Linked DNA regions of Homo sapiens. The protein of the gene in region 2 purifies or fractionates together with the protein of the main gene of each other region. This does not show direct contact. Each region holds a gene or a part of one and is shown on either strand. Other genes may lie near its edges. The genes, in order: KLHL15, ZNF444 and SCAND3.

Region 1 (3,751 bases), on a different chromosome or scaffold from region 2:
AAGTTAAGATTTTACGAATTTTACAAAACATGAACTTTGATCTTGGCCTCTGTCTTTAAAATGGAAGACCAAGAATACTCAAATGTTTGCCCAGATGTCACCCTGACTAGGGTCATGAAGTCATATCTAAGCAATTAAAGAGAACCACCACTATAGTGTAAAGGCTTTGATGTGGATACCTGGCCTGATGGCTCTTTCTTGGTCTTTTCTAGCAAAAGACATCAATGAGGAAAATAATGAAGACGTTATTTTCTTTAAAGCAAAATAGCACACATACAAAGCCACTAAACTAATGTAGAAAAAAATTAAATGGCTAACTTATTCCTAACTTTCAAAAATAAAATAATGTATTTTTTAAATGTAGAAAAAGACTTTTACCCATATTACCATGGGAAACAAGATACCAAATTTCATGTTTGGAAACTGTAAGTAAATGACAGGACTAGTTAATGAAAATATAAGTCTCATATATAAAATAAGATTATTATTGATTTTTGAAATCAATGCCAATGGTTTTTTCAAAAGCTACTTATGTACCTGGTTTCTTAAACCCAAATGCCTCCAATTCTGGAGTTTGAAGATCAGGTTTAATCTCATAGTATGTCTAATAACTGCCCAAAAAACCCCCAAAAACCAAAGTCTTCACATTTCCATGACTTCACACTTCCATTTTATGTTCAATGGTGGCAGCAGCAAAAAAACAAACAAACAAACAAAAAAACAAAAAACACCAAACAAAGTGAAACTAGAAAATTTATACATCAGCAGCCATATAGAAGGCATTGCAATATTGCACCAATATTCTAAGATCTGGCAAGTTTTGCCAGTATAGATCTAGTCTGTATCAGATATAGACTACTCATGCGCAAATGGCATCAATTTCAATGATCCACTCCCAGGTTATTCTTGCTTAACTTTGTCAACTATGTTTTTTCCTCTGCATTTAAAGAGTTGAAAGGTGCAGCTAATCCTAAAACACTTATTATAAATGCTTTTAAACAGCTATTCTTGATCCATTCTGAACTTTGTGGTTACTATCCTTCATGCTAATAGCTTTCAGTAAATAAAACAAAAACTGAGGGCTTACATCCCTAGTGTCGCTGGGTATTTTGTACAAAATAAACAAGTAGATAAAACCAGTAACATTATAATTCTATTTCTTACCTCTAAGTCAAAACTGAGGTCAAATTTTCTAAGAGTTTCTACCTTCCATTCAATAACAAATGCAGCAGCCTTACTGAATGTAAAAAATGGGAGTTGCACTTACTTTTAAGGGGCCTTGATTTAGGAGTCTGGTATTACCTAAATGCTCTTTAAAAGTGCTTGCATGCTGCAGGGCCAGAACTTGTCATATACCACTCCGATTCTCACTAAAAACAGGGTAACGTTAAACAGACTGCAAAGAAAAACATTTTCAAAAAGAAAAGACATACATCGACAAAGAACACTAACATTTACTTTTGAAAATAAAATATAAAGTGTTAGTTTTCATAACCATACATGTTTCAGAAATATAAGGAGTTCAAATATTACTGAATCAGTATGGACTGAAGATAGGCTACTTTGATAGCAAATGAGGACTCCAGTTATTTCAACTTTCTAAAAATGTTAATATGTGAAAAGACGTTACATCTAAAATTCAACAAGTATGGCGAACTGTGTGTGCAAGTAAGTGCACTAGCTTAAAAATATAGAATCCTAACCACGCATAAAAGGGATGTGCCTTGTGTATTTATAGGTTGTATGCGAGTATGAATATGCTTTCACTAACACAATGCGGATAAGAGAAGGCAGCTTAGAAATAGTGTTTTGAATATAAAAAGTTAATTTTGTAGAAAATTTATATTTTTGCATTTTCAGCAAAAAGCCATGCAAAAAGGTCAAGAGTTTTAAACTTTTAAATAATAAAACTAAAAAGTATAACAGACTGAAATACACTGAAATAAATCTTCAAAAAGGTTTCAGATAGAGACAGAGACTGAAATCACATCCAGTGACACTTATCGGGTCTTCTCTTAGAAGACACATGACTCCTACGCTAACATCTGAAAGAAATGTTTAAAGCAGAAAATCAATATCCCAGATAAGTGGAGCATTCTATTCAACTGCTTCTGGAAGTAGTTTCAAGAGCTAGCACTTAGAATTAACTTATTGCATGAGTTTGAGGCCACTGAAAAGAAAAAAAGGATGCTAGCACAGAATGAAAAATTCTTACAATGTTAGACCAATGGCTTTGATAGTAAAACTGGTGAGGTTTTTCTTTATATGTTTTAATTAATTACTCTGTGCAAACAAATACTTTGTTTGCCTCTTTTTTTAGGGAGGAGGATGTCATTAGTTGCAACGCCTGACCTCATCCAGTACATAGTCCGGAAAATGCAGGTTGCATACTTGTAAACCATCCAGCTTGCAGGGCATCCGAGGGTACTCATCTTCCTTCCACTTGTTTTCATCCGGATCAAAAGTGAGGATGGAATCGCTGTAATGACCATTATAACAAAGGCCTCCAAGAACCATTATTTGTTTGTCCAGCACAGTCACACCATGGCCACTTCTACCAATCGGCATGGATGCCAAGATGGTCCACTGATCAGTCTCTGGGTTGTATACTTCTGTAGAAGGGCATCCCTGAGATTCGAAAGAGGCCCTCAAGATCACACAGACACCACCGAAGACATAAAGCTTGCCATTGTAAGAAATCATCTTGTGAAAGCATCTCGCGTAATTCATCTTGCTCTTATTCTCCCAACAGTTGGTAACCACTTGAGTTCTCCTGGTCCGTTGTTCTATGGTCCCTTCTTTGCTGGGGTCAAACACGCACACTTGCTTGGAGGTGGAAGATGAGGTGATTCCACCGGTGATAAACAATTTGTTATTGAGCACTGTCCCCTCATGTCCATATTTGTTAACTGGATAAGGATCCACAAATTCCCATTTATCGTTGGTGATGTCATATCTCTCAGTTGAATAGAAAGTCTCATCTCTGGTTCTGCCTGCTACGGCGTAAATAAACTTCCCAATAACACCTACAGCAAATTCAGAGCGTGGTACAGACATATCTGCCATCTGCAGCCAGGAGTTCTGTCTCGGGTCATACCTGAATACTTTGGAAGAAGCATGGAATTCACCATCCGGGCCCAGCTCTTCCCCGCCTAACAGGAACACAAAATTATTGACGATAGCAAGGCAGTCAGGTCGCAGAGGTACTTGTGGGCCTTCTAGCTCCCACCAGACTCTTGGTTTCTTTAAGAGAAGTATTTTACTGTTAACCATGCTATGTCCAATCATTCCTCGAAATACTGTAGTTTGCGGTTTTGCAGAACGGATGCGGCTTGACTTCATATCCAACAAAGGCTGCTGGTGAACATTCTGAAAGTAATTCAATGCTTGGTCAACTTCGTAACGGAGCTGTCGGGAGTATCTATAAAATTCTGATGTCTTAACCTAAGAACACAAGAAAAAGAATTTAACCAAAGGAAAAAGCATCAGCTGCAAACAAATTATCAAAGCTGACTAATACGATCATCTTAGGCTCACTTTACTAAAACTGCTTTTCCTGCTAAGATCACCTACTTTCTTTTGTTTTCTACAAAGCTTTTAAAAAATCTTTTTTTTTTTTTTGGAGATGGAGTCTCACTCTGTTGCCCAGGCTGGAGTGCAGTTGCATGGACTCAGCTCACCGCAAGCTCCGCCTCCCAGGTTCAAGCACTTCTCTGCCTCAGCCTCCTGAGGCGCCTGCCACCACGCGCCC
Region 2 (3,751 bases):
GACTGGGAGTCGGAGGTTGCAGTGAGCTGTGATCGCACCACTGCACTCCAGCCTGGGCAACACAGCCAGACCCTGTATCAAAAAACAAAACAAAACAAAACAAAAAACCAAAAAAAAAAAAAGAAAAAAGAATCAAGGGCTGCTTTTCTATTTTTGGCCTCAACATTTGGGTGAAGATGGACTTGCTTTCTAAGATGGTGGAGTAATGGGAAGGAACAAATTTCTTCGCAAGGTGGGGGAGAGAGTGAAAAATTATCTACTGCCCACCTTAGGTTTGAGATGCCTATTAAGAAATCCAAGAGGAGATGTCAAGTAGGCCATCGGATATGAGTGGGAAGAAGATCAGCGTGCTCTAGGAGCAGAAAGGAGGCATGACTGGAACTCATTAAACACGAGGAGAAGACAGTGGTAGACAGGTGGGCCAGGGCAGATTAGGCCACCGTGGGCAAACTGGTCACAAAGTTCTGAGTCAGCCACTCATCGCTTGTGAAACCTGGGGAAAGTTGTTCATTTATGAATATAAGACGAACAACTTCCATGTAATGAATGCTTGTTATGGGTAAGCCACTGTCTTCGTTTTTATGGCGCGGAGTCTTCAGATCAGCCGGGGAGGTGGAGGATGGGAGGGGGATTCTCTTATCCTTGTTGTACGGAGGAGGAAATACGCTGCGGGCTGGGGTAGGGCTTGTATGAGCCATAATCAGGTCTGGAACTGTCTAGATAAAAACTTCAGCTGATCTCTTAGGATGTCTGTCTGCTCTAAAATCCAAATATGCTTCTTCACAGTTCTGAGATGCAGAAACTGAGGCCTCAGGACGGGGCAGTAGTCTGTCCAATAGGGGCACAGCGAGGACGCGTGGCAGGTAGCGCTGTCCCCCAATTCACCCCAGGGGAAACTGAGGCTAAAGAGAGGGCGGTGTCCTGTCCAGGTTCACACACAGGAAGAGCCAAACCGAGGCCCCCGCGCTGGCCCCCTCCTGAGCCACTGCCCACCCCGGAACAGGAGGGCAGCCTGCTCACGTCCTGATTCCTGGCACCGACATCGGCCCTTAAGTTCTGCCCGGGTGGAGAGGGAGGACAAAAAAAAATGCGATCCGTAGTCAAGGAGACGTAGCCTGCACTCCTGATTGGCGCAGAACTCTAGCCTGGTCTCCTCCTCCTCCTCCTCTTCGCTTGCCAGCTTCTAGAGCTCCGGAGGCCCCACCTCCCAAATGCCCGGCGGTGCCCGGCCTCCCCTGATCTCCACAACAACGCCGCCATGGCTCCTCCTCCTCCTCCCTCTTTTTTTCCCGGCACTTCTGCGCATGTCCAGGGCCCGCGCGCAGACCACTGGGAAGCCTCCTCGTGCATTCTGGGAAATGTAGTCCAAAGCCTGTCGCGCTCAGACAGCCCGCGACATTTGCGCCGTCAAGGCCAAATAGGCTGCAGACGACGCTTTCGCGTATCTTGGGAAATGTAGTTCCAGTGTTGGCGAAGACGCCACGCGGTGACAAACAGGAGTAAGGCGGTCCCCAGGCGAGGGCCAATTGGCAGCCGCCTTTGCCGCGATGCTTCCTGGGAGTTGTAGTTCGGGGTGAGGCCGGGGCTTCATGGGGAGTTGTTGGGCTGAACGAGCGGCTCGGAGTATGGGATTGGGGGAGGGGGACGGGGGAGTTTGGCGCAAAGCCTGCTGGGGCATGGAGTCCCGGCGAGCTTTGTGCGCATGTGCGGGGAGGTGAGGGGGCTTGGGGGGCCTCGCCTGAGAGAGTGAGGTGAGCGAGGGGGGAAGGAGGGAGGGATTGGGTGGGGGCGGTTGGACGAGGGAGGGACCAGAGGTTGGATGGGAAGAGGGGCGCCGGGGGCCTCAGGAGGGAAAGATGGGAGACTTGCGGGGAGGGGAGGAGAAGGGGGCTGAGTGATGGGGAAGGGGCTGGGAGAGGGAACTAGAGGGGGAGGGACTTGGAGAGGGGGAGGGGTGGATAGTGGGAGGGGGTCGTGGATCCTCGAGGTCCTGAACGCGGGAGAGAAATGCTGAGGGAGAGGACGGGGGAGGGGCGCCTGGGGGAGGGGGAGGGGCGGGACGGGGGAGGGACAGGTGGGGGAGGGGAAGGGGACCCTAGCAGAGGGTGGGCTGTGAGATGAAAGCTGAGTGGGAAGCTGGACCCTACAAAGGAGTCTGGGGGCGCCGGGACCGGACCCCTTCGGAAAGGTTTGCGGGAAGGGGCTTCCGGGGACGATGGTTATTGTTGTAACGTAGATACGGCGCAGGTGGCTCGTTTTGCGCGCTGCTTCTACAAGTGCAACTTTTACAGAGTTGTGAGATTCCTGAAGATAAGAATCGTTGCTCTGTTTTGCTGCTTTCTCAGTGCGGAGCATCTGCCTTTTTAGCTTGTTGCAAGGCATTATTACCTTCGGTAATATGTGTAAAGTGCTTAGAAACTCTGTTTATTGTCAAATGAAGTTGACCCCCGCCACCTCTACCCCAGTCAGGATGGAGTCACCCTCCTCTATATCCGATTTTAACGCCTATTCCAATGTATACTTAGTATTTTAATCTGCGTGCGTGTTCATAGCAGTGTCCCCTGGGCACCTCGCAGGGAAACTTCGACAAAGTAACCCTAAGTCTGACTGGACACTTACTAGCCAGGTGTGGTTCTCAGCATTTTTGTTCTCCTTCTATCACTTTACAGTCAACGAAATGGAGATACAGGGTATTACAAAAGGTGCCTTGTACCTCGTCCAAGGACACAGAGCTGGTAGGAGGCAGAGCTGGAATTTGCCCCAGAGCCTTTGTGCCGTAGGTAAATATTTGTCCAGTGGGCCAGCGGCTCTCAACCAGGAGTGGTTTTGTCCCCCAGGGGACATGTGGCAATGTCTGGAGACTTTTTTTTTGGTTTTTCCAACTTGGGAAGTGCTACTGGCATCTCATGAAAAGAGGCAGAGATGCTGGTAGACATCGTATGTTGCACAGGATAGCCCGCCACGACACAAGTGCCATTAATGTCGAGGTTGGGAACCTAGAGTAGACAAACCGGTCTTTGTCGAGCACTTAGCCTTTGGAGGCTGCTTCTAACTCCTGCTCCCAGCAGCCTCTTGAGAGGAAGGAGCTCTTGTTAGTCCTGTGTCTCAGGTGGAGAAATGAAGCACAGAGGGGGTAAGTCACACGTCCACAGTCACACTGCTGATGAGTGGCAGAGCTGGAAGTTGAAGCCAGGCAGCCAGACTCCACAGCCTCTTAGCCATGATATTAACCCAGCATATGTGGGTGCTGGTGCCGGGGTACTAGGTGGAACTGGTGTGGACTCTGGAGTCACATCTGGGTCCCATTTGTGGCTCCTTCACTCTCTGAGCATCTCCCTATGGTAAGAGGGGACCCATCTCCCCAGCTCACAGGTCTGTTGGGAAGGTTGGGTGGGGCAGTATAAGACACTAGCCACTCAGTGGCTGTCTTCAAGGCATCCAGGGTGCCTGGCTCTGGACTGGACTGTGCTTTGCGGACACAGACAGCTAGACAGCAGGGTTACAGCTGTTGAATGCACATAGCACAGGGCGCTCATTGGATGGTAGGGTGGATTGACATGGTGGAAGGCCCTTACTTAACAGCATGTGCTTTCTTGGGAGCAGGCCTTGTGCTGGATGGCCCCACCGACCCAGTGAAGAGCTGGACTTGGTCACTGCCCCAGAGAGCTCACTTTCTGGACAGCCCAGGGTGTAGTGACCTGTGATCACCTCTGAGATTGCAAACAGGGTCAGCTTGATGGCCTGTGGCATT
Region 3 (3,751 bases), on a different chromosome or scaffold from region 2:
CAGGTCTAGCAAGAGAGACTAGATGACAGGGCAGATATTTTCTGATCTTTCGGGTGATTTTTTTGTAGATTAAAAAAAAATAAAACATTGCAAGAGAAAAAAATTGTCTTTTAAAATTCTTATAATTCTCAGTGATACACCAAGCCACCCTCCAGTAGTCACTGAGCTTTCCTCAAATATCACAGTTCTCATTTTACCTCCCAATACAACTTCTTTACTGCAGCCCCTTAATCATGGTGTGATTGCAATCTTTAAAGCTTATTATTTAAAGCAAACATTCAAGATATTGGTTGCCTATACAGGGGGTGACAGTGCCCTAACATTTTTTGAATTCTGTAAATGATTCAACATTAAACTTATTATTGATATTATTGTAGAGGCCTGGAATGATTTCACAAAAGCCTGTTTGCACGGGGTGTGATATACAATTCTCCCTGATTTAATTTATGATTCCAAAGCCTTTGAGCCTTCAGAAGATCTCCCCAAAACCAACCCAAGCTGTATCGCTCTTGCAAAGGGGGTTGGATTTGAAGAAGTTGCTAGTGAGGATAATGCGGAGCTGCTGCAATCTGACACACAGGATCTTTCTACAGAAGAGCTGCAAGTTAGTTGCTGAGGCACAAATGGAAGGTGTGGAGGAAGAAGAACATGCAGTTCCACAAGCTACAAGCTGCCTCCCAAGAGCTTTTCACTTCTCAGTTATCTTCTGCTTCAAGTATGATAGAGAAGCAGTTGGAGTAGATAAAAGATAATGACTACAATGCAGAACGCAGCATGATTTCACTTCATGACATAAAGCCCTAATTGGACCCATATAAACAGCTTCTTTATGAAAGAAGGAAAGTGTTAAAACAGCAAACACTGGGTATCTTTTTATAAGCCAGTGTCAAATAAATAAAAACAAGATGATAAACGGGAACCCACATCATGTTTCTTGTAGTATCACTATATCCAAGGGTGGAAGAATATAACATCAAATGTTCAAGCGTCTTCACTTGGATTTTTGATGATTATATCTTTCCACCTTTGAATTGTTGTTGTTGTTGTTTGTTTGTTTGTTTGTTTTGAGACAGAGTCTCGCTCTGTCCCCTGGGCTGCAGTGTAGTGGCACGATCTCGGCTCACTGCAAGCTCTGCCTCCGGGGTTCAGTCATTCTCCTGCCTCAGCCTCCCGAGTAGCTGGGACTACAGGCGCCCGCCACCACGCCCGGCTAATTTTTAGTAGATACGAGGTTTCACCGTGTTAACCAGGATGGTCTCAGTCTCCTGACCTCGTGATCCGCCCACCTCGGCCTCCCAAAGTGTTGGGAATACAGGCGTGAGCCACCGTGCCCGACCCACCTTTGAATTTTTGATGATTATATCCTTCCACCCTTGCCCCCCCTTTCCTCACACTTGTTTCTAACAAGATAACATCACCTTTCTAAGGTAAAATCCTATACTTAAAGTAAGATTTATTAATGTCTTATATTTTTACTAGAGTTTTTATAGTGTTTTTTATTTTATTTTATTTTTATTTTTATTTTTTGAGACGGAGTCTCACTCTGTCCCCAGGCAGGAGTGCAGTGGCAGGATCTTGGCTCACTGCAACCTCTGCCTCCCTGGTACAAGCGATTCTCCTGCCTCAGCCTCCTAAGTAGCTGGGATTTACAGGCAAGCGCCACCACGCCCAGCTAATTTTTGTATTTTTAGTAGAGACGTGGCTTCACCATGTTGGCCAGGATGGTCTCGATCTCTTGATCTCATGATCCGCCCGCGTCAGCCTCCCAAAGTGCTGGGAGTACAGGCGTGAGCCACCGTGCGCCAGCCGGGAGTTGTTATAGTTTTAATAATGCTCTAGTGACAAAGTTGTGTAGGTGTTAAAATAGTCCACCCTTTAACCGTATTTTCCCCATAAATCCTGTCACTTTTCTGCAGTTTTGCAGAAAGCATGTTTTTTTAATACATTCATATGTTATGTTGCAGCACAAATGCCTATATAAGCAGTTTCTCACGTCTAGTCAGCACACCCTTTTCTCTTTGCTTTAAATAACAAATACTGTAGTTTTTTTCCCCCTTAAGATATGCCTGTTACTTTAGAATAGGGGTATCCAATCTTTTGGCTTCCCTGGGCCATATTGGAAGAATAATTGTCTTGGGCCACACTAAAATACACTAACACTAACGATTGCTGATGAGCTTAAAAAAAATCACAAAACAATCTTACAATGTTTTAAGAAAGTTTACAAGATTGTGTTGGGCCACATTCAGAACTGTCCTGGGCTGCAAGTGGCCTGCAGGCTGCAGGGTGGATAAGCTTGCTTTAAAATTTCCCCTTCTAGCTTTGTTGAAAAATGTAGCTTCTGGTAGGACTTGGTGTTTGGTCAGTTCCTTGGGTATTGTTCAGGTTATACGCTGATCATGTTTGATAGTTTTTTTAATGTGGTCAGAGTTATAAATATCTCTTAGTGTTGTTGAATATCAAGTTTGTATAAATGTTTCTCATTTTTCTTGTTTTTGTGTGATTTCCCCCACAGGGGAAATACCACTGGCAGACACTTTTAGCTGCCAACCCAGTGTCTATTCTACCCTTCTTTCCTCCCGACAAAATGTTGGTTTTGTTCATACTGGCAATATATCTAATTAAATTCTTTTCCAGGCTTCCTTGTTCTAGAGTTAACTATGCAACAGAATTCTGGCCAGGGAGAAATAAGCATATTTCGGGGAGGAGGTTCCTGGGGAAGCTTTTATTTTCCTGATAGGATAGGGGAGATTACTTTAGTTTCACCTTTTCTCACTTCCAGTCTTGAACACTAATATGATATCTGGCCATCTTCTGACCATTAAGTGATGGTAAGCATGAGGCCAAATGCTAGTGTTAAAAGTGACAGAGCAGAAATATGAAGACAGCTAGGGTCCCTGAAAAACTGTTAGATAAATGAGTTGGTGCCAGCAACTACCTTCTTCTAGGCTTCTTGTTATGTAACAAAAATAAACCCCTATTTGTTTGTGCCACTGTAAGTTAGATGTTCGAATTTATTGGAAATATGTGCATTTCTAATGAACACAGCAATATTTACTCTACCATATTACAACCAAAAGTTTCTTTCCAGCATTTTTATTTATTTATTTGAGATGGAATCTCACTCTGTCACCCAGGCTGGAGGGCAGTGGCACGATCTTGGCTCACTGCAACCTCCACCTCCCAGGCTCAAGCAATCTGCCTTCCTCAGCCTCCTGAGTAGCTGGGACCACAGATATGTGCTACCATGCCTGGCTAATTTTTTGTATTTTGGGCAGTGATGAGGTTTCACTATGTTGCCCAGGCTGGTCTCGAATTCCTGAGCTCAAGCAATCCTCCCACCTCGGCCTCCCAAAGTGCTGAGATTACAGATGTCAGCTACTGCACTCAGCTTCTTTCCAGCGTTAAAAAAAATCAAACCCAGGAATTGAATACTGAAAGACTAATGACTGTCATGACCAGTTTGAAGTAACTTCAGTTTTGTAATTTATTACCACTACCCAAGGTACTCTTCAAACTTCTGTGGTAGAGGCAGAAGTGGAGTTCCTCCCGGTTCTAAGACCAGGCCCACCCATTTTGGTCTAGTCCAGCTGGTGGAAAAGTAGAGGAATCAAGAGACTAGATTTGTGTTTGTGCTTGGGGGGGTGGGGGGGTGGGGGAGAGTCAGTGAATAATTCAGCACAATGAACCATATCCATATTTTGTTTCTTAGTTGCTCCAAAAGCTGGGATTGTGTATACTAACATTACAG

Evidence for each region.
Region 1: the proteins of ZNF444 (region 2) and KLHL15 purify together in Homo sapiens (affinity purification with mass spectrometry; 2 studies listed by BioGRID and IntAct, with this or other methods). This does not show direct contact.
Region 3: the proteins of ZNF444 (region 2) and SCAND3 purify together in Homo sapiens (affinity purification with mass spectrometry; 3 studies listed by BioGRID and IntAct, with this or other methods). This does not show direct contact.

The regions. Positions count from the first base shown.
Region 1 is NC_000023.11:23,985,587-23,989,337, forward strand, and holds part of KLHL15 (kelch-like protein 15), read right to left. Parts: intron 3,445-3,751; coding exon 2,335-3,444; 3' UTR 1-2,334. UniProt on the Homo sapiens protein: Substrate-specific adapter for CUL3 E3 ubiquitin-protein ligase complex.
Region 2 is NC_000019.10:56,139,607-56,143,357, forward strand, and holds the start of ZNF444 (zinc finger protein 444), read left to right. Parts: upstream 1-1,680; 5' UTR 1,681-1,751; intron 1,752-2,091; exon of another isoform or gene 2,092-2,626; intron 2,627-2,669; exon of another isoform or gene 2,670-3,751. UniProt on the Homo sapiens protein: Transcriptional regulator. Binds to the 5'-flanking critical region of the SCARF1 promoter.
Region 3 is NC_000006.12:28,580,697-28,584,447, reverse strand, and holds part of SCAND3 (SCAN domain-containing protein 3), read left to right. Parts: intron 1-3,751.